3 separate regions of the Homo sapiens genome follow, and all the other regions are linked to region 3. The links come from fine-mapping of genetic effects on gene expression. A gene starts in region 3. Each other region holds a variant in brackets. All regions are shown on one strand. Distances are between the middles of the regions.

Region 1 (7,748 bases), 79 kb before region 3:
CAGGTTCTACTGCATAACTGAGGCTGATATGAGACTTTTTTTTTTTCTGACGAGTCTTTTAGGGAGGAGAGGAACAAAATAATACAGTTTGCACCCACAGGAAATAGGTAACAGCTTTCTACTTTTAAATATATAATTATAGGATGTTAGAATTAAAGGGGACCAGGGTAATAACCTAATACATCACACTAATTTTATGGATGAGAAAATTGAAATTCAAAAAGGAGAAGTGGGCTGGGCGCGGTGGCTCACGCCTGTAATCCCAGCACTTTGGGAGGCCAAGGCAGGTGGATCACCTGAGGTCGGGAGTTTGACACCAGCCTGACCAACATGGAGAAACCCTGTCTCTACTGAAAATACAAAATTAGCTGGGCGTGGTGGCGCATGCCTGTAATCCCAGCTACTTGGGAGGGTGAGGCAGGAGAGTCAAAAATTAGTCAGGCGTGGTGGCACATGCCTGTAATCCTAGATACTCGGGAGGCTGAGGCAGGAGAATCGCTTGAACCTGGGAGGCAGAGGTTGTGGTGAGCCGAGATCGCGCCATTGCACTCCAGCCTGGGCAACAAGAGCGAAACTCCGTCTCAAAAAAAAAAAAAAAAAGCCAGGTGTGGTGGCTCATGCCTGTAATCCCAGCACTTTGGGAGGCCGAGGCAGGCGGATCACCTGAGGTCGGGAGTTTGAGACCAGCCTGACCAACATGGAGAAACCCTGTCTCTACTAAAAAATACAAAATTAGCCAGGGGTGGTGGCACATGCCTGTAATCCCAGCTACTGGGGAGGCTGAGGCAGGAGAATTGCTTGAACCTGGGAGGCGGAGGTTGCAGTGAGCCGAGATTGCACCACTGCACTCCAGCCTGGGCAACAAGAGCGAAACTCTGTCTCAAAAAAAATAAATAAATAAAAAATAAAAAAAAAAGAAGTGACCCACCCAAGATCTCACAGCTAGTTAGTACAAAAGTTAGGGCTTTAATGGATACCTTAGAATTCCCAATATAGTGTTCTTTTCACTACCCTGTGCTATCCACATGACCCAGAAAGTTGAAGCTATGATAAAATGCACTAGCTTATAAATGTGTTATACACTTTGACTCATAACTCCATTTATAGAAATTTGTTCTAGAAAATAATTCAAAAGAAGCAAGATATTACATAAAGGTATTAACTGAACCACTATATAAGCAAGAATGTAAACAAATGTCTAACAGAGGAATGGTTTATTAAATTAGATTTAAACAATACAGTGGGATATTAACTAAAAATTCTAAGACTGTTGAAATGGGGAAAATGGCAAATTATATATGAAAATAGAATGCTTTGGTTACAAATATATATGAGATAATGAGTAAAAATTATAGTGATAAATTTTATTAGTTATTATTTTAAAATTTTTTTGTGTTATACTAGCTTTTCAAGAAAACTATACCAAAAAAATGAAGCAGGCCAGGGCGTGGTGGCTCATGCCTGTAATCCCAGTACTTTGGGAGGCCAAGGCGGGCGGATCCCGAGGTCAGGAGATTGAGACCATCCTAGCTAACACGATGAAACCCCGTCTCTACTAAAAATACAAAAAAAATTAGCTGGGCGTGGTGGCGGGCGCCTGTAGTCCCAGCTACTTGGGAGGCTGAGGCAGGAGAATGGCGTGAACCTGAGAGGCGGAGCTTGCAGTGAGCTGAGATCGCGCCACTGCACTCCAGCCTGGGCGACAGAGCGAGACACTGTCTCAGAGAAAAAAAAAAAAAAGCAACAAATATGGAATGATAAGTTGCCCATTGATAATACCAGTTGGTCAGCACACATTCCTAAAGGAAGGGAAACACTAACATTTATTGAGAATCTACCGTATGCTATGCACTTTGACACTGTCTTAGTCCATTCGGGCTGCTATACCAAATTCCTATAGACTGGGTGGCTTATAAACAATAGAAACTGATTTCTCACAGTGCTGGAGGCAGGGAATCTGAAATTAAAGTGCCAGCATGGTCAGGTTCTGGTGAGGGCCCTCCTCTGGGCTGTAGGCTGCCCACTTCCTCCCTGTGTCCTCACATGGCAGAAGGGGCAAGGGTCTCTCTGGGGCCTTTTTTTTTTTGGTTGGGACAGAGTTTCGCACTTGTCACCCAGGCTAGAGGGTAATGGTGCGAACTCAGCTCACTACAACCTTCACCTCCCAGGTTCAAGTGATTCTCCTGCCTCAGCCTCTCAAGTAGCTGGGATTACAGGCGCCTGCCACCACGCCTGGCTAATTTTTTTTGTATTTTTTTTTTTTTTAGTAGTGACAGAGTTTCACCATGTTGGTCAGGCTGATCTGGAACTCCTGACCTCAGGTGATCCACCCACCTTGGCCTCCCAAAGTGTTGACATTACTTACAGGCATGAGCCACCACGCCCGGCCTGGGGCCTTTTTTATAAAGGCACTAATCCGGCTGGGCACAGTAGCTCGGGCCTGTAATCCCAGCACTTTGGGAGGCCAAGGCGGGTGGATCACCTGAGGTCGGGAGTTTGAGACCAGCCTGACCAACATGGAGAAACCCCGTCTCTACTGAAAATACGAAATTAAGTCAGTGTGGCGATTCCTCAGGGATCTAGAACTACAAATACCATTTGACCCAGCAATCCCGTTACTGGGTATATACCCAAAGGATTATAAATCATGCTGCTATAAAGACACATGCACACATATGTTTATTGCGGCACTATTCACAATAGCAAAGACTTGGAACCAACCCAAATATCCAACAATGATAGACTGGATTAAGAAAATGTGGCACATATACACCATGGAATACTATGCAGCCATAAAAAATGATGAGTTCATGTCCTTTGTAGGGACATGCATGAAACTGGAAACCATCATTCTTAGCAAACTATCGCAAGGACAAAAAACCAAACACCACATGTTCTCACTCATAAGTGCGAATTGAACAATGAGAACACATGGACACAGGAAGGGGAACATCACACACCAGGGCCTGTTGTGGGGTGGGGGGAGGGGGGAAGGATAGCATTAGGAGGTATACCTAATGTTAAATGACGAGTTACTGGGTGCAGCACACCAACATGGCACATGTATACATATGTAACTAACCTGCATGTTGTGTACATGTACCCTAAAACTTAAAGTATAATAATAATAATAATAATAATAATAATAATAATAATAA[TAAA/A]TACAAAATTAGCCAGGCATGGTGGTGCATGCCTGTAATCCCAGCTACTTGGGAGGCTGAGGCAGGAGAATTGCTTGAACCCAGGAGGCGGAGGTTGCGGTGAGCCAAGATCATGCCATTGCACTCCAGCCTGGGCAACAAGAGCGAAACTCCGACTCAAAAAATAATAATAAAATAAAAATAAAGGCACTAATCCCATTCATGAAGGCCTAATGACCTAAATCACCTCTCAAAGGCCTCATACCTCCTAATATTATCAGTTCGGGGGTTAGGATTTCAACATATGAATTTTGGGGATATATAAACATTCAGACCATAGCACACATTTAGCTCTCACCTTCATAATAACTCTGTGAGGTACTATTACTTTTTCCAATTTGTAGACAAGTCTCAGAACTATAGGCCTAAACATAACTAATAAGTAAATGAGTCAGGATTTGAACCTGAGCCTCTGATTCCGTACTGCCACATACACGTAATAGGTAAGGTTGCTCAGTTATTTCCAGTGTATTCTGTCACCATGAGATAGCATTTTTCAACAAGGAATTAGATTAGGAATCACTGATCTAGTCCTAGCTCTGTTCTTTTTTTCTTATTCTTTTTTGAGACGGAATCTCACTTTGTCACCCAGGCTGGAGTGCAGTGGGGTGATCTTGGCTCACTGCAACCTCCACCTCCCGGGTTTCAGCAATTCTGCCTCAGCCTCCTGAGTAGCTGGGACTACAGGCGTGCACCACCACGCCTGGCTGATTTTTGTATTTTTAGTAGAGACGGGGTTTCACCATGTTGGTCAGGCTGGTCATGAACTCCTGACCTCAAGCAATCCACCGCCTCAGCCTCCCAAAGTGCTGGGATTACAGGCATGAGCCACCACACCCAGCCCTAGCTCTGTTCTTAACTAGCTGTGTGACCTAAAGAAAGCAGAAATCTTAAATAATTTGTTTTCTCATTTGTAAAATGGTATACATACTACTATTCCAACAAATATTTCTTAAAACTTAAGCCTGGTACTATGTAGCATCACAGTGGAGCAAATAAAGTAATGTTTCTAAAAATACTGTACATTTTACAAAGATAAGCAGTAGAATGTCATTAAAATCCTGGCTTTTTTTTTTTTTTTTTTTTTGAGGTGGAGTCTCGCTGTTGTCACCTGGGCTGGAGTACAATGGGGCGATCTCGGCTCACTGCAACCTCCCCAACCTGGGTTCCAGCAATTCTCCTGCCTCAGCCTTCTGAGTAGCTGAGATTACATGCAACTGCCACCACGACTGGCTAATTTTGTATTTTTAGTAGAGACAGGATTTCACCATGTTGGTCAGGCTGGTCTCAAACTCCCGACCTCAGGTCATCCACCCGCCTTGGCCTCCCAAAGTGCTGGGATTACAGGCATGAGCCACTGCCCTGGGCATTTTTTTTTTTTTTTAAGACAGGTCTCAGTCTGTTGCCCAGGCTGGAGTACAGTGGCATGATCACGGCTCAGCCTCAACATCCCGGGCTCAGTTGATCCTCCTACCTCAGCCTCCTGAGGAGCTGGAACCACAGGTGTGCACCACTCCACCTGGGTGATTTTTTAATTACTTGTAGAGACAGGGTCTCCCTGTGTTGCCCAGGCTGGTGTCAAATTCCTGGGCTCAAGCAATCCTCCTACCTTGGCCTCCCAAAGTGCTGCGATTATAGGCATGAGCCACCGTACCCAGCCAAAACCCTGGCACTTTTAAGCATCCCCAATCCCAATCTCCTACTAACTTGAAGGGTCTGGAGACACATCTTTCGGAAGCTGCTCCTAGTGCTTCCAGTCAGAATACTCATGATGGAGTTCACAGCCACTGAGAGTGAGGCCTGTAGTTTCTGCTGAGCCTGGGGAACATAACAAGTAAGGGGGAGACTGCATGAATCCCAAGATGTGGTTTAGAGAATCCCAGAGGGCCCACACATTTCCATCAGAGCAGGATTTCAACAATTCTTCCTATCCATCAACAAAAGTTACTGAGATCCTCACATATTTTTACATCATAACACTTAGGGAATTAAAATAAAATTTTAAAATGTTCTTGCATTTCACAGAGGTGACTTACTGACACAGACACATCAGAGAAGACAAGCAATAGGACAATGATCAAGAAAACAGACACACTATTTGGGAAAAAAAAAAAAAGCTTTTAGTTCTGCTCTCTTAGTGTGGTTGTTTTTTCCCTGAAAAGGGGGCCATATGAGGTAAGAAATGTGTTACCAAAAGTACACAGGATGGATGGATGTAGAAAATCAGGTAAGGAGAGAAAGTGGTGGTGTAAAGAATTAGGAAAATGGGGGAAGAATGTAAGACACAGCGAAACAGCAGCTCCAGAAGTCTGTGTGGGAAGGGGAATTATATGCATAAGGAAGAGGTGTGTTATCAGCCATTTTTCCCTATTAACTATTTCCCTATTTACCCAAACACACCTACTAGGAGGTAAGACTAAGCAAGCTGGTTACAGTGATCCATCTAAGCTAAAGTTTGAGTTGTAGGCTAGATGCAGTGTTACAAGATCACCCAGGTGACAGAAGAGGAGAGGAAGGGGCATTAAGGGAGGAAGGGCTCCTGGGCCCTGCCTGCCATATATGCTTGCTATCTTTTTCTTAGAGAATAGGAGAAAAGAGGCTGTGAATTCCTTATTACCTTGGCAGCCTGGTGATGTTGCTCCAAGACCTTGTCCACAGTGAATTGGATGGAACCTTGCACTACACTGTGGCTCTCCACAAGGATGGCATTGAGATGAGTTGTGAGCAAAGTATAGACTCCTAAGGGGAGGGAGAAGGTAAAATTATCACTATATCTACCTCCCCTCACTGTGCATCTGCAAAAGCTAGTCTTAAATTACCAGATGTGGCCTGTAATCCCAGCACTTTGGGAGGCCGAGGCGGGCGGATCACGAGGTCAGGAGATCGAGACCACGGTGAAACCCCGTCTCCACTAAAAATACAAAAAATTAGCCAAGCACGGTGGCGGGCACCTGTAGTCCCAGCTACTCGGGAGGCTGAGGCAGGAGAATGGCGTGAACCCGGGAGGCGGAGCTTGCAGTGAGCCAAGATTGTGCCACTGCGCTCCAGCCTGGGTGACAGAGTGAGACTCCGTCTCAAAAAAAAAAAAAAAAAAATTACCAGATGTGTAAGATTTAAGACACTTGTTTACTAATACACTGATGAATTTCTTTTAAATCCAATACTGAGTACAACGACTGAGATACTGCAGGCCCTCAGAATCAAGCTAAACAGAGGTGTACAAATTATCACAGTAGTTCAGGAATGATAACACTGGTTTCTGAGGAATCCGAGTTCTTTAGAAATGTTCAGTAGGGCTCAGAACATGGTATCAGGCTTGCATTATCCAAGGATTAACCATGAGCGAGGATAACTACTTCAAGATTGCTGTTCATGTGCTTTGAGTCAGGACTGGGAGTGGGAAAGATGCCTCTTGGAAGAAGAGACCCCTACATATCCACAAATAATTACCTTTTTTTAGACAAAATCTCCCAGCAACTTACACACCTACCTAATTCCCACTCATAAATCTAAGAAAGCTCAGGAAAATTAAGGTGGAGAATGACATTATTTTTTAAAGAAACAAATAAGGGATCCTGTTTAATTCATAGCAGAAATATATACCATGTACTATAAACAACAATCCCAGTGACTCCCAAAGGAGAGGAGAAAGGGAGAAGCAAAGGTCCTATAGAGTGTGTCTAACCCTACTCTACGTCTATGTGAACATCACTGTTGTGGCAGTGCTTTCAGACGTACTGTGGTAAAGAAAAGGTTAAAATTCACAGAGATGACACAGAACTGTTGGTATGAGGTCCTTTTAAATGGGAGATTATCTCTGTTAAAGTAACCACAGGCACCACTGCTCAGTCTCATTCAGAAAAGCTAATATGTGAGAGCAACAGGCAAAAAAACTATGCCATCAAACAATAGGCCACCATTTAATGATCCCGATGCAGCAGGCACAGGAAGCCAAATTTACAGGTCACCTGGAGAAAATCCTTCTTGATTATTCTTTGTTTTCAGTGTTCAGAATTCTATGGGAAGCAGCCTAAAACTGGCTGGCTTTTTCCAGGACTGTATTAAAAATGCAAACCAGAAGAACATTTTCTACCACAAGGCACCATGATCCTTTCCTGGTAGGGAACGTAATATATGGTAAGCTCAAAAGGATTCTGGAGCTGGAGTCAGGGAGAACATAGATTCTAGGGCCAATTCTGCCATCAACTAGTGGTGATGAAATCTTTTCTTCAGTATAGAAAATGGCTTTATACCACCTGCTCTCACAGGTATGTTGTGTAGATAAACTGCGATAATGTACACAAAGTGTTTTGTGGGTTTTGTTGCCCAGCCTGGAGTGCAGTGACACGATCTTGGCTCACTGCAGCCTCGACCACCGGGGCTCAAGTGATCCTCCCACCTCAGCCTCCCGAATAGCTGGGACCACAGGTGTACACCACCACCATGCCTGGCCAATTTTTTTTTTTTTTTTTTTTTTAAGACAAGAGTTTTGCTCTTGTTGCCCGAGCTGGAGTGCAATGGCGTGATCTCGGCTCACTGCAACCTCCG
Region 2 (7,748 bases), 24 kb before region 3:
AAGAAAGGCACGCACCACCACACCCAGCTAATTTTTGTATTTTTTAGTAGAGACGGGGTTTCGCCATGTTGGCGAGGCTGGTCTCGAATTCCTGACTTCAGATGATCTGCCCGCCTCAGCCTCCCAAAGTGCTGAGATTACAGGCATGAGCCACGGTGCCCGGCCAAGATTTTTATTTTTTGAGATAGGGTCTTGCTCTGTCTCCGAGGCTGGAGTGCAGTGGCAAAATTATAGCTCACTGCACCCTACAACTCCTGGTTTCAATCACTCCTTCTGCTTCAGCCTCCTGAGTAGCTAGGACTATAGGCATGCAGCACCATGCCCAATTAACTTTTAGAAATGTTTTGTAGATATGGGGCCTTGCTATGTTTCCCAGGCTAGTTTAGCAAGCTTGAAAAATATATAAACATCAATTGTATTTCAAATACTAGCAAGAAACAGTTGGAAAATGAAATTCTTAAAAAAATACCACTTACTGGCCGGGCCACATTTACAGTTAACTCTTCCACTTAAGTACTGAACCCCTCAAAGTCATCCATAAGGGTTGGAATCAATTTCTTCCAAACTCCTGTTAACGTTGATGTTTTGACCTCCTCCTATGAATGACGAATGCTCTTAATGGCATCTAGAATGGTGACTCCTTTCCAGAAGGTTTTTAATTGACTCTACTCACTATCTATGGCAGCTATAGTCTTATAAAATGTATTTCCTAAATAATAAGCCTTAAAAGTTGAAATTACTTCTTGAACCATGAGCTGTTCATGGATGTTCTGGCAGTGCATTTGACAGTCCCACCCATCTGTCTCTTGCTTCAATAGTATTTGGATGGAACAAACCCAGGGACTCCCTCTCTTCCAGCCTCCAACTGCCCTCCACTGTCCTCTCCACTTGCAACCTCCAGGACCATCTTCTCGGCCATCTCCTGCTTCTGAGACCAGCCAACACTGTTTTTGTGGTTAGCTCCTTCTTGCCAACTAGACTCATCAGAATTATTTCATCGAGTTGGAGGCAGCTGTCAATCGCCTGGTCAATTTGTATCTGTAGGCCTCCTACATCTCTCTCATTCTGGGCTTCTATTTTGACCACAATGATGTGGCACTGGAAGGCACTGGCCACTTCTTCCACAAATTGGCTGAGAAGTGTAAGGGTGCAGAGGATCTCTTGAAGTTGCAAAGCCAGCATGGCAGCCACATTCTATTGCAGTAGAGACGGGGTTTCACCATGTTAGCCAGGATGGTCTCAATCTCCTGACCTCATGATCCGCCCACCTTGGCCTTCCAAAGTGCTGGGATTACAGGCGTGAGCCACCACGCCCAGCCTCAAATTTAAATTTCTTAAAAAGAAATTGGAATGGCTGAGGATGGTGGCTCATGCCTGTAATCCCAGCACTTTGGGAGGCCGAGGTGGGAGGATTGCTTGAGCCTAAGAGTTCAAGACCAGCTTGGGCAACATAGCAAGACCTCATCTCTAAAAAAAAAAAAAGAAAAAAAGAAATCCAGAAGAAGTGCCATTTGGATAACCTCAACCTTTTCAGAAAAATAGAAGGTAAAGACATTTATTGAGTGTCAGGTAATTTGAAATATACACTATGAGAATTATATAAAAGAATAAACAAGATAAGAGTACTGAACAACCCCAAGAAGTTAGAAATTCTCCTTAAATTTATAGCGTACCCAACATTCAGTTTTATGATTTACACAAGTAACACTTGGCAGCTTGGAAATAAGAATGAAAAAATAATAATAATGGTGATTACCCAAGCCTGGAGACTGATAAGAAAGAAAAAGTAGAAAGTCAAGGCAGCAGGGGATTATACTATGCTAAGTGGCCAACGATGGGTAAGGAGGCCAGAAGGGGTGTCAGGAAAGAGAAGAGGGAAGTAAAGGGGAAGATGGAGTTTAAAAAACTTCAATTTCATATTACCACTGGTGTGTGGAGCATTTGTTTTGAGATAGAGTCTGGCTCTGTCACCCAGGCTGGAGTGCAGTGGTGTGATCTCAGCTCACTGTAACCTCCACCTTCTGAGTTCAAGCCATTCTCCTGGGTCAGCCTCCCAAGTAGCTGGGATTACAGGCACCGGCCACCACGCCTAGCTAATTTTTGTATTTTTAGTAGAGATGAGGGTTCACTATGTTGGCCAGGCTTGTCTCCAACTCCTGACCTCAGGTGATCCTCCCACCTCAGCCTCCCAAAGCGCTGGTATTACAGGCATGAGCCACCGTGCCTGGCCTCATTATGTTTTTGACTTGCATTTTTCCCTAATGACTAATGATGCTGAGCATCTATCTTTTCATGGGTTTACTGGCCATGTGTGTATCTTTTTAGGATAAATGTTGTCTTAGTCCACTCAAGCCGCCATAACAAGAGACCATAAACTAGGTAGCTTAAACAAGAGAAATTTATTTCTCACAATTCTGAAGGCTGGGAAGGCCAAGATCAAGGTGCCAGTTGATTTGGTTCCTGATGAGGGCTCTCTTCCTGGCTTTCAGATAGCTGCCTTCTCATTGTGCCCTCACATGGCCTTTCCTTGGTGGATACAAGGGAGGGAGAGGGAAAAAGAGAATAATCTCTCTCTCCCTTCCTCTTCTTATAAAACTGCTAATCTCAGGCCAGCCGTGGTGGCTCACGCCTGTAATCCCAGCACTTTGGGAGGCCGAGGCAGGCGGATCACAAGGTCAGGAGTTTGAGACCATCCTGGCTAACACAGTGAAACCCCATTTCTACTAAAAATACAAAAAAAAAAATTAGCCGGGCGTGGTGGTGGGCGCCTGTAGTCCCAGCTACTCGGGAGGCTGAGGCAGGAGAATGGCATGAACCCGGGAGGTGGAGCTTGCAGTGAGCCAAGATTGCACCACTGCACTCCAGCCTGGGCGACAGAGTGAGACTCTGTCTCAAAAAATAAAAATTAAAAAATAAGTAAATAAATAAATAAATAAATAAATAAAACTGCTAATCTCATGAAGGCCCAACCCTCATGATCTAATCTAACCCCACTTACCTCCCAAAGGCCCCATCTCCAAATACTATCACACTGGGGGTTGGGGCTTTACCATATGAATTTTGCTATTTGTCCTTTAATTGTTGTTGTATAAGTTCTATATGTACACTGGATACTAGACTTTTCTTATCTGTGGATTATTTATTCACCTTTTTTTTCTGAGTTTTGGAACTAGAGACCTTCATTTTCCAGCTTTTTTTTTTTTAGGTATAATTGATCTTTTCACTTTCTTAGTATCATCTTTTGAAGCATAAGAGTTTTTAATATTGATTAAATCCAATTTCTCTACTTTTCCTTTCGTTGCTTGTGCTTTAAATGTCATATCCAAGAAAACATTGCCTAATCCAAGGTCATGAAGATTTAAACCTTTCTTTCTTTTCTAAGAGTTTTATAGCTTTAGTTCTTTGATCCATTTTGAGGTAATTTTTCTATGTGATGTCATCTGACCATTTTTCAGAATGTATTAAATGGCTAGCCATAAAGTCTACTCAAGAAAAAATACAGTATCCCCTCTTCCCATTCCAGCCAAATTCCACTATACCACTATAGGGAGACAACTCTCCTTGTGTTCCCAGCTGAGAAGATGAAAGATGTGTGGTAACCCAGAAGGACAGAGTTGGAACAGTAAGTGCCCAGCTGATTACTCAATGAGGAATTGTAACAGTTCAAGCATTTTAAGCCAGCCAGGTACAAGGCAGGTTAGCTCTCATGGGCTGCTGAATAAAAGCAGTTATGTACCACTCAGCCAGAGAATGAGCCAGCTCCCAGGATCTCTAATAATAAGAGCTATCCTTTTCCTCCTGTTTTATCTATCCAAGTTCAAAAGGAAAAGGAATATGTCAGGGTTGGTAAAAACCACTTCTGTCCTTTCCATCCCCTTCTGTCACATCAAATCTTGAACATGTTCTCAATAGTGAAGTGCAATTAGATAAATGTAACAAGGAAAAGAGTAAAGAAATATTAAGGAAGCAAAAAAAA[A/C]AAAAAACAAAAAACAAAAATCTGTTTTAGCGTGTCTTGATCTTCAGCCAACCTTTATAAAATCTTACCAAGCGTTAGGTAAATTTGGCAACAACAGCCTGTTTAGAATGTATCAAAAGCTTAAAATTAAGTGTAGTCTCTCACAGTTTAATGGATAACCAGCAACCTATGAGTCTACAAATGTTTCCCTTCTTAGTATATGAGGCTAAGTCTCAGTTTTCTCATCTCTGAAACAGAGATGATGATAACACTTATGTCTGACTGCTCCTCAAGAATGAATGAGATCATGTCTACAAAATGAGCTCCCGGGGGAAAAAGCGTTAGATAAATTCTGAGCCTTAGAGTTGTTGATTTTGTAAGATATAAAATTATAATAGATTTTTATTCTTGAATACAAGAATCTCAGACTTAAAAAAAAAAAACTTGATTACGTCAGACATTCAAGAGTTCACCATTGTGAGTTTCTTACTCAATGTTGAGCAAGTCTGGACCTGTCAATCTCTCTAACCCATGAAAAGCACCACTCCTCACTTTCTTTCCCAACAAATTAACAAAGAGGACAAAAGTAAACTTGAAAATAAACAGGCTGGGCATGAAGGCTCACACTTGTAATCCTTACACTTTGAGAGGCCAAGGTGGGAGGATCGCTTGAGCCCAGGAGTTTAAAACCAGCTTGGGCAACATGGTGAGATCTCATCTCTACAAAAAATAAAATAACTAGCTGGGCATGGTGGTACACACCTGTGGTCCCAGTTACTCAGAAGGCTATAAATGGGAGGATCCCTTGAGCCCAAGAGGTCAAGGCTGCAATGAGCTGTGGTCATGCCACTGCACTTCAGCCTGGGAAACAGAGCAAGACCCTGCCTCCAAAAAACAAAACAATGAACAACAAAAAAGTCTCCCTGACACCAAAAGGGTAGCATATAGGGAAGAGGCAAAAACTGAACTATCATAGCCATGTAACCATATATCAACAGCAAAGCAGTCCTCCCTGTTTACAAGGACTGGTATTCTTATCTAGTCTTATGAAGAAAAAAGAAGGCTGTAAATTTTATTTGGGAAAAACACTTGCACATCTTTTTAAAATAACTGGCCATACTGTATAAAGAGCTAAGTTATGTCAATAAACATGGAAATGAGAAGCTATTTTAAAAAGACAAAAATAAAAATAATATGAATAGAAGAAAGAGGAAAAAGCAGCAAAATAAAGATCTATAAACATGGATTTTTTTCATATTCCTCCATCCACTTTCCTTTCCTCACTTGAATAAGGACATAATAGGAAGCAGAGCTGAGCAAATAGGACAAACTGAAACAATCATGTTTCACTAAAAGACATTTATGATAGAAATAGTTCTATATAAATGGATAAGTATACACATAAATGAATATATAAATGGAATTATACCTAAGTAGATAAGTATTCAATGCAGACAGTAGCACACATTTAACATGTAGTGACAATTTTTTAAACACATAAGAACTTATCTATCTTAATGGGCATTATTCTGCAAAGTAGAGGGGATTATCCTCTTGAGAGAAGGCCTTAACTCTGGTCTGAAGTACTTAGACCTAATATAATAATAAATAAGGAATCATTAAGGGAAGAATGTAAGCTATGTTTAAATTAATAAGAATTTTATATTATAAAGGCAGAATTAACGAAAAATCAATTACATAATGAGGAAACAAAAAAGGAGAAACCCCACCATAAAAACCAAGATTTTTAACGCTGGAGAATTATGAGTATGTCAATATCACTGAAAGGAATGCAGACATTACACAATAAGTTCATTTCAAGAAACTGAACCCCATGTTAGACATGTTACACAGGATATTTCAGAGGAACTCTCAAATGGAATAGTCTAATTGACATTCAAAGCTATTCCATTGGAGTTTAGGAGACATGTCAGTGATCAAGAGGGGGAAAAATAAGTCTCATCAGCATAGTTAATGTTAGTTAAAGTCTTGAAAGTAGAAAAGCTGTCTGAATTGAATGTAGAATAATGATGCAGAATAATGAAGGGAAGAAAAGCACATTGGTGACTGAACTTTGGGGAATATCCTCTGGGTTATGAGAGAAGCTCTTTCAACTTACACCTCCATTACAGTACTAATCACACTGCATTTTATTTGCAGAGCTGCCTCTACTTCCTGTGACTTCTTTGTGGCAAGGTAGATGTTACAATAAAAGTTTACTGAATAAAAGTATAAATAGTTAGGGACCAGAGAAGAAAGGGGAAAAAAGAGAAAATAAACCAGTAGAGAAGTAGGTGAGTAGGGAGATTACAATGGTCATTGCTTATTAATCCAGCATAAATAAAATACACAGAAATATGAGCCTATTTGGTACAGGAATTGATCTAAAGTATTCCAGATCCAGAGAAAAAAGTACCTTGATACAACCCTGGTAGAACAGATTGAAGAGTAAAGGAAACTAAAGCTGATAGTTCTTCAACAGTTCAGCTCCCCTAAAGAAGGGTCAGACCACTTGTTTTAGACACTGAGAGAAATCAGCCAAATAATGAAGAAAACAACAGAGTTAAACTGAATTTACAGACATATTAACTTTGTATAGATACACAATTTTTTAGCATCTAGAAAACTGATGAGTAATGAATCCAGCTGCCAGAGACTCCCTGATGAAGCTAACTAAACAGTGTAAAGATCAGTAAATGGACCAATTTAAAGCAGTTTGCTATTAGCTTAATAGTGTCAGAAATTCTAAATAATAATAGTAAAAAAGGCATAATTAATGGTGCATAAACCAGGGAGCTAAGGGATTCCTGTCTTATTCTTCACCAATTTCCTTTGTGAGGTTCACTGAGTAATTTTTGTTACTAATTAGTAAGAATAACTAGGCCAGGCACAGTGGCTTACGCCTGTAATCCCAGCACTTTGGGAGGCCGAGGCGGGTGGATCACCTGAGGTTAGGAGTTCGAGACAGGCCTGGCCAACATGGTGAAATCCCATCTCTACTAAAAATATAAAAATTAGCTGGCCGTGGTGGCAGGCGCTTGTAATCCCAGCTACTTGGGAGGCTGAGGCAGGAGAATTTCTTGAACCTAGGAGGCAGAGGTTGCAGTGAGCCAAGATCACGCCACTGCACTCCAGCCTGGGTGACAAGAGTGAGACTCCATCTCAAAAACAAACAAACAAACAAAAAGAATAACTAGCATTATTGAGTGGAGGTTAATATTAAGAGCCCTAACAACTGGAGAGAAGACTTAGGCTACAGTTGGCTACTAAATGTGATTGAGCATGAGCAAATGATTCAATTTTAATTATGTACTTGATGTGCAGTACTTCCTCTTTGTACGAAGAGTTAGCCACTCACACTTTATCACAATAAGGATTAAATGAAATTGCTTTGAGTTTTTAAAGTAACAGTTAAATTAAAACTAAGTCACCATGACAAAAATTGTCTAGAGTTTGTATTGGCATGAGTATGTGGTTATTCCATAAATGATAACCCATAAATGATACTCCCTAAGAGTAACAATGATAATAAAACTATTCTCTTGTAGTTACACGGCTTTTCACTTTTTTCAAAGCACTTTCACAAATATTAGTCAAACAAGTAGCCTTATATATGATCTGACCACTCCTTGTACAAGCACATTAAGTGTGGGTTTATTTTGCAAGGAATGCTCCTATCTCCTCCCTAGTGCTAATAATATACTCCATTTATATAGCTTTTTTTTTTTGGAGACAAGATCTCACTCTGTCACCAAGGCTGTAGTGCAGTGGCGCAATCACAGCTCACTGCAGA
Region 3 (7,748 bases):
TAGAAATCACAGTAATAATACATCTCTATGACCCAGTTAAATTAGTAACTCTAATTTCCCCCCAAAAATTGTATTCTTGCTTCTAAAATGTCAGATTTAGGTTTGTTCAGAGTATTGTGTCTAAACAAAATAAATAGCTAGGAGAGTGACATAAGAAAAGAGTCAGTGAAATTCAACATAATGCCCAGTAAGACAGGAAATTGAGACAATAAATTCCTTTATTCAGAAGATAAATTCATCTGGAAATAATAATTAGGGAAAAATTAAGTGGGAGTTTGTTTTTCTTGTTTCTTTTTTCCTGCCCCAAATAAAAGCCAACATGAAGACTATGAATAAGAGTGGCATCTGGTTATGAATCATCTTGATCTTTCATTAAATCAACACTTTTGAGGGTCAGAATACTATTTAAGAGTGCTAATGCTGCCCTGCGCGGTAGCTTATGCCTGCAATCCCAGCACTTTGGGAGGCCGAGGTGAGAGGATCACTTGAGCTCAACAGTTTGAGATCAGCCTGGACAACATACGCAGACCTTATCTCTACTAACAACAACAAAAATTAGCCCAGCGTGGTGGCGTGTGCCTGTAGTCTCAGCCACTGGGGAGGCTGAGGCAGGATGATCTCTTGAGCCCATAAGATTGAGGCTGAAGTGAGCCCTGATCAGGCCACTGCACTCCACACCTGGATTTGAATCCCTGATGTGCCAAATTCTAGCATGTGACCTTGGGCAAATTACTTAATCTCTCCAAACCACAGACTCCTCATCTATTAAAATGGGGATAAAACTACCACATAGGGCTGCTGCTGAAAGTAAACAAATAAGGTACGTGCAACGCTGAGCGCAGTGGCTCATGCCTGTAATCCCAGCACTTTGGGAGGCCAAGGTGGGAGAATCGCTTGAGCCCTGGAAACATAGTGAGGCCCCATCTCTACTAAAAAAAAAAAAAAATTAAATAAAAATATGTGCAAAATGCTTAACACAGTACTTGGCAAATAGCAAATGCTTAACAGATATTAGCTATTATTTCTAAGTTCTAATGCAGTAAAGACTACACACAATATTTTAAGTTGAACAGGACTCCAAGATGTCTGGGTAAAACATTTAATCGACCGGGTGTGGTAGCTCACACCTGTAATCCCAGCACTTCGGGAGGTTGAGGCGGTGGATCACCTGAGGTCAGGAGTTCAAGATCAGCCTGGCCAATATGGTGAAACCCCATCTCTACTAAAAATACAAAAATTAGCCGGGTGTGGTGGTGTGTGCCTGTAGCCCCAGCTACTTAGGAGGCTGAGGCAGGAGAATTGCTTGAACTCGGGAGGTGGAGGCCACAGTGAGCCAAGATTGGGTCACTGCGCTCCAGCCTGGGCAACAGCAACACTCCGTTTCAAAAAGAAAAAAAAAAACACATTTATTCGAGACAAATTGAAAATAAAATATATTTCATTTATTTTTGGGGGGAGAGAGGGGACAGAGTCTCACTCTGACTCCCAGGCTGGAGTGCAGTGATGGCATCATCATGGTTCACTGCAGCCTCAACCTCCCGGGCTCAGGTGATCCTCCCACCTCAGCCTCCCAGGTAGCTGGAAGTGCAGCCGCCTGCCACCACACCCTGCTAATTTTTTTTTTTTGAGATGGAGTTTTGCTCTTGTAGCCCAGGCTGGAGTGCAATGGTGCGACCTCAGCTCACTGCAACCTCCGCCCCCTGGGTTCAAGCGATTCTCCTGCCTCAGCCCCACAAGTAGCTAGGATTACAGGCATGTGCCACCACACCTGGCTAATTTTGTATTTTTAGTAGTGACGGAGTTTCTCCATTTTGATCAGGCTGGTCTTGAACTCCCGACCTCAGGTGATCCGCCTGCCTCGGCCTCCCAAAGTGCTGGGATTACAGGCGTGAGCCACCGCTAATTTTTGTATTTTTTTCAGAGACGGAGTTTCCTCATGTTAGCCAGGCTGGTCTTGAACTCCTGATCTCAAGTGATCTGCCCGCCTCGGTCTCCCAAAGTGCTGAGAATACAGGCTACCCACCGCGCCCGGCCAACTCCCATTATTATTCATGCAAACAGATTCTCACTTTTACAGGGAGGCAACACAAGGAAAATTATTACCCCCTTTTTAAAGGCAGGGAGATCTGGGAACTAAGATCCTCATTTGTACCAGTTAACAAGAATGGTTTCCAGGTACGTGTAGAGTCTAACTATTCCTTCACACGTCCTCTGTTACGATATTCCCATATCGGGCCGGGCACGGTGGCTCACGCCGGTCCCAGCACTTTGGGAGGCGGAGGCGGGCAGATCACTTGAGGTCAGAAGTTCAAGACCAGCCTGGCCAACATGGTGAAAACCTGTCTCTACTACAAATACAAAAATGAGCCAGGTGTAGCGGCGTGCGCCTGTAATCCCAGCTACTCGGGAGGCTGAGACAGGAGAATCCCTTGAACCCGAGAGGCGGAGACTGCGGTGAGCCGGGATCACGCCACTGCACTCCAGCCTGGGCGAAAGAGCGAGACTCCGTCTCAAAAAACAAACAAACAAACAAACAAACAAACAAACCCTAAAGATATTCTCATGTCGGTATGACAGCGCAGTTGGGAAAAGAACACTGGCCTATGAGTCAGCGCCCTGGGTTCTAGCCTAGGTTCGGTTATTTGTAAAATGGAATCCCGCCGCCTTCTTTGATGACAACAAACAGGCAGGACGCCCGGGGGTACTCTCTCAGGTGCCCTCAGAGCCTGTGCTTCTGTCACCTGCCCAGTACCCCTCACAAACAGCAGCTCAACGTCCCATTGGGCACCGGCCGTGAAAGTGGGTAATGAAATGAGCACACGGGGCGTGGCCGGCGCCAGGCGCTCAGTGCCGTCTTCCAGAGCAGCTCCCCGAGCACAGGTGTGGCCTCTGAACCTCGCCCTTCCACGTCCAGCTGCTTCGAACCCAGAAACCTGCACCTGCACCGGGGCCTAAAAAAACTCTCCCTCGCTCCCAGTCTGCACTGGGTCCCTCCTTGCCTCTGTCCTGGCGCCCCGACTCCCCCCACCCCGCCCCGCAACGCCAGGGCTTGCCCCATTCCTTTCCTTCTTTCCGCGCCCCCTCCCAGCACCCGGTGCATGGAAGGCGCTGGGCTCCGGCAGGCACCTCCGAGGCTGCGTCAGGCTCTGCCCCTGGGTGTCCGCCGGTGCTCGGCAAACGCCGCAGCTTTCTGAGCCGTAGGCTGGAGAGAGGGCGTCGTTCCCCCACAGAGTACCCCGCGAGCGAGAGCCCTCATCTGCTCCTACTTCCTCGCTTCCCCGTGGGAGACGGGCCTCGATTCCCGAACCTTCCTCCTTCACCTTAGGCGACGCCCGACCCCTCTGCCCAAACTTCGCGGTCTCCTCACAAAGCCCGTCTCCTCAGAAAGTGTCCTCCGCTTTCTCTCCCTTCCCAGCATCACCTCGAACACGGCCACGGCCGTCCCCTCCATGCCGCGCAGGGAACAGCGGCAACGCCCAGTCGAAGGGTACCCGCCCGCCGCCGCCGCCGCCGCCGCCGCCCCCTCCTCAGCCCGGGCTTGGAACTCCGCCAGTGCCCACGCCCGAGTCCACGCCCACGCCCGGCAGCGCGAGCCCATCCCTTCCCGCGCGCGCGCCTGCGCCCGCGCACGCCCCGCCCACCTGCCCGCCGCGCCTGCGCACTCGACGCTGCAGGGCCCCGAGACCGCGAACCGCCGCCGGGAGCCACCTAGAGCCTCTGAGCGCCGCGGGTGCCAGTGGGCCCGCAGGTGGGAGGTTCGGGGCGGGGAAGAGCCCGCGAGAGGCGGCCAAGGCTGGAGGTGAGCGGGAATGAGGCCAGGCCACGACTCCTCCCTCCTCTCAAAGATAGTTTCCCACGGTGGCGGCGAGATGCGGCCCTTGGCCCTAATCCGGGCTTTGGCCGCCCTTCGCGCTTTCCAGGACCCTTCCCTCGGCCGGGAGGGGCGACGGTAACGGCGCGGGGCTACCAAGCGGGTTCGTGACCCCTCCAACAGCCTTGTCTGCGGCGGGGGCTGCCCCAGGCCAAGCCCTGGGTCCCAGACTTAGCAAAGAAAAAGACGGCCAATTAAAATTGAATTTCATATAGACAGCGAATTTTTTTTATAACCATACACATATCTCGGCAATTTTTGGGACATATACTAAAAAATTACTAATCTGAAATTAAAAACGACGCCCTGGGCCGGGCGCAGTGGCTCACGCCCGTCATCCCAGCACTTTTGGAGGCCGAAGCGAGTGGATCACCTGAGGTCAGGAGTTCGAGACCAGCCTGGCCAACATGGTGAAACCCCGTCTCTACTGAAAATACAAAAATTAGCCGGGCGTGGTGGCGGGCGCCTGTAATCCCAGCTACTCGGGAGGCTGAGGCAGGATAATTGCTTGAACCTGGGAGGCGGAGGTTGCAGTGAGCCGAGATCGCGTCATTGCACTCCAACCTGGGCAAAAAGAGCGAAACTCTGTCTCAAAAAAAGAAAAAACGACCCCCCGTCTTTTACCTTACAACCAGCCCCAAGCATCTCCCAGCCTAATCCAGGGGGACCAGCTTCCCCCGCAAAGGTGGGACCTGGGAGTCGACCCCTCCCTATCCAGGCCCCTTTCCACGTTTGACTGCACTGAATGTGCCAAGACCAGGAGCTGGCTTTTCTGGGCTCTGGCTGACAGGAGAAGCTCTGGGGTTTTCCAAGTGCATTCCTGGCTGGAATAAGGAGGTCCTGCAGAGTCCCAGCTGCTGCTCTCTGCCAGGTTCCGGGAGGGGCATGGTGACAGGGGCTTAAGCCTATAACTGCTGGTGATCTGACAGCCAAAAGAAAACCCTGATGAGAGATTCCTGCCTGGCAAAGAGTTGCCCAAGGAGAAGGGTGGGACAGGGTGTTGGCTGCTTTCCTTCAGGAAAAATTCTTCCACCCCAGCTCCAAGACGCCAGGATTGGACAGAACAGGCTGGCGAGCTGGCAGAGTGCCTGCCCAGTACACAACCTTGGTGCTACTCCAAAGAACATTGTCTATCGAGACCTGAATCATACCCTTCTCGAGTCTATGCTCAGCGCTCCTCCCCATTCCTCCCCATCTCAGTTGCTCACAGGTAGACCTATTGGAGCAAGGTAGCTTTTATTTCTGGAAAATCCATCGTAACCATCAAACTTGATAAACAGCTGGCATTTGAGGAATCATTGGAGTCTTCCTTTCATTCCCCCCACACCCCCCGCAGAGCTCCCCATCCCCACCCCCAGTCTCTTGTCCTTTTTCAGAAGAGGAGTTGCCAAGGGGAAGGGACCAGTAACATTGAATGACTGCTTGTTGTCGGACCCCACTAGCTCTTTACATAAATGATGTCATCCTCTCAACTATCTTGTAAGAAAATTGTTATCGTCACTATTTTATGGGTGAGAAACCAAGGTATTGAGGATGGTTCTTTAAAATATTTCCCATCGTGGCCGGGCGCAGTGGCTCACGCCTGTAATCCCAACACTTTGGGAGGCCCAGGTGGGTGGATCATTTGAGGTCAGGAGTTCGAGACCAGCCCAGCCAACATGGTGAAACCCCACCTCTACTAAAAATACAAAAATTAGCCAGGCGTGTTGGCATGTGCCTGTAGTCCCAGCTACCTGGGAGGCTGAGGCAGGAGAATTGCTTGAACCCGGGAGGTGGAGGTTGCAGTGAGCTGACATCACACCACTGCACTCTAGCCCGGCTGACAGAGTGAGACTCTGTCTAAAAAAAAAAAAAAATTATCATTGTGAGTGTTGGCCCAGCAGAAAATGCTCCACCTTGAGAATGGCATTGAGAATGAAGATGAGTTGGTTTCCTAGCTTCCAGCCCTTGTCCTTGGAAATGAGCCTCTAGCTTTCAGCCCTTGTCCTTGGAATGAACTTCAGGGATAAAGGTGTAATGGAGCACCCAATACCACCCTAGAGGCAGTGGAGGCCTCTCAAAGGTAGCCAGGGACACAGCTGTCCTCCCTACTGGACATAGGGAGAAGCAAGGAGGGAAGCCTTCGATATGAGGGTTTGCCATCAGGACTTCCGTAGCGTAAACCCACGTATTCAGGCAGCATGCAATATAGGCTTGATATATGGTGAGAATCCACTCTGTGCTAAGTGCTCTTCACTTTTTCTTATTCATCTTAAGCAGTTCTCCCAATTTTGTAATCTTGTAAGAAAGATGTTATCTTTGTTTTAGAAATGATAAAAATGAGAATCCAAGAAGAAGTTGTATGAATAAATCAGGCATGGTGGCTCATGCTTGTAATTCCAGCACTTTGGGAGGCCAAGGCAGGAGGATTGTTTCAGGCCAGGAGTTTGAGACCAACCTGGGCATTATAGTGACAGCCTGTCTCTACAAAAAAATTTAAAAATTAGCCAGGTACAGTGATGCATGCCTACAGTCCTAACTACTTGGGAGGTTGAGGTGGGAGGATCTCGAGCCCCTCGAGTTGGAGGTTGCGGTGAGCTATGATTATGCCACTGCACTCCAGCTTAGTGACAGAGCAAGACCCTGTCTCAAAAAAAAAATTAAAATTTTAAAAACGGTTTTTTGCTCAGACCTCATCCTCAGAACACTAGAATGTTAGAGCCAGAAGGGACTTTGGAAATTATCAGTTATCTATTAAGATGAAGAAATTTGAAGCCCAAAGAAACTAAATGACCTGCCCTTGGTTAAGGTCACCTTAGTTAACTAGGCCAACCAAGGAGGCTTTGAGTATGGCTCTCGATATTTTCAGCCCTGGCCTTCCAGGTCTCATTTATTGGCAGTGTCTGTAGGGAGCCAGTTATTTCCAGTCCTTAGACTGGGTGACATATTGATTCTGCTTCCATTTCTGCACCCACCTCAGAATTTATATTACTGTTTCATGTTGTATTAGTTCATTCTCATGAAGACATACCCGACACTGGGTAATTTATAAAGGAAAGAGTTTTAATTGACTCATTGTTCATCATGGCTAGGGAGGCCTCAGGAAACTTAGAATCATGGCAGAAGGGGAAGTAAACAGATACTTCTTCACATGGCAGCAGGAAGGGGAAGAATGAGTGCCCAGTGAAGGGGGAAGCCCCTTATAAAACCATCAGATCTCTTGAGAACTAATTCACTATCAGAAGAACAGGATGAGGGAAACTGCCCCCATGATTGAATTATCTCCGCCTGGTCCCTCCCATGACACATGGGGATTATGGGAACTACACTTCAAGATGAGATTTGGATGGTCACACAGCCAAACCATATCACATGTCTACTTTGGATATCTTGTTTATTCCAAAAAGAAACCCTCTGTCTGAGACACACTCCCTGCCCCCCTATAAGAAGAGCCCAAGACTGATTCTGACCCAAACTCAAGGGTTTGAGTGGAACCAGAACATCCTAGGGAGTGCTGCCAGATGAACAATGACATTTTAGGGACTGTTGAGCTTTCCTTTTGAATGTGCCCTCTCTGTGTCTCCTAGACACTTCTTAAGGCCCCACCTTGTTTCTTAGGCTCCCCTAGAGCTTTCAAATGCCCTAAAGAGGCTGACCCTAGGAACTTAAGTAGAAAATATCCTTGAGGTCCGCCTTTCCAAGCTGATGCAAAAGGAAGTCCATTTGAAGACTCCCTCCCCTGGGAAAGAACCAAGCAACTATTAAGCTGTTTCCCATCCAGACAGTAGGAAAGGGTTAACTGCTTCTCTCGGGTCCTGAGCAAAGTCTGTCCCATACCAGTTCCCATAACCGGGTTTCCTGAAATGGAGCAGGTCCCAGGTGACTCTCCACTAATCAC

What was found. PIP is the estimated chance that this variant, and not a neighbour inherited with it, causes the effect.
Region 1: its variant is the best candidate, but not a certain one, in a credible set for the expression of TOP6BL in whole blood (INTERVAL, PIP 0.90).
Region 2: its variant is the best candidate, but not a certain one, in a credible set for the expression of TOP6BL in blood mononuclear cells (TOPMed, PIP 0.87).

What each region holds. Positions count from the first base shown.
Region 1 is chr11:66,819,834-66,827,581 of GRCh38, reverse strand. It overlaps TOP6BL (TOP6B like initiator of meiotic double strand breaks), which reads right to left. Exons shown (of 15, transcript NM_001302084.2): 10 at 5,818-5,939; 11 at 4,908-5,018. Among named protein-coding and RNA genes, the nearest start is that of RCE1, 20 kb to the left of the region's middle. The variant TAAA/A (reference allele first, on the strand shown) is at 3,159.
Region 2 is chr11:66,764,904-66,772,651 of GRCh38, reverse strand. The region is part of intron 2 of TOP6BL (TOP6B like initiator of meiotic double strand breaks); the gene reads right to left. It also overlaps the pseudogene FTLP6. Among named protein-coding and RNA genes, the nearest start is that of TOP6BL, 24 kb to the right of the region's middle. The variant A/C (reference allele first, on the strand shown) is at 3,977.
Region 3 is chr11:66,740,593-66,748,340 of GRCh38, reverse strand. It overlaps TOP6BL (TOP6B like initiator of meiotic double strand breaks), which reads right to left and starts at 3,572. Exons shown (of 15, transcript NM_001302084.2): 1 at 3,422-3,572. It also overlaps a transcript of SPTBN2 not described here. RefSeq lists enhancers at 2,714-2,803, 3,244-3,353, 3,845-4,345 and silencers at 2,984-3,083, 3,494-3,883.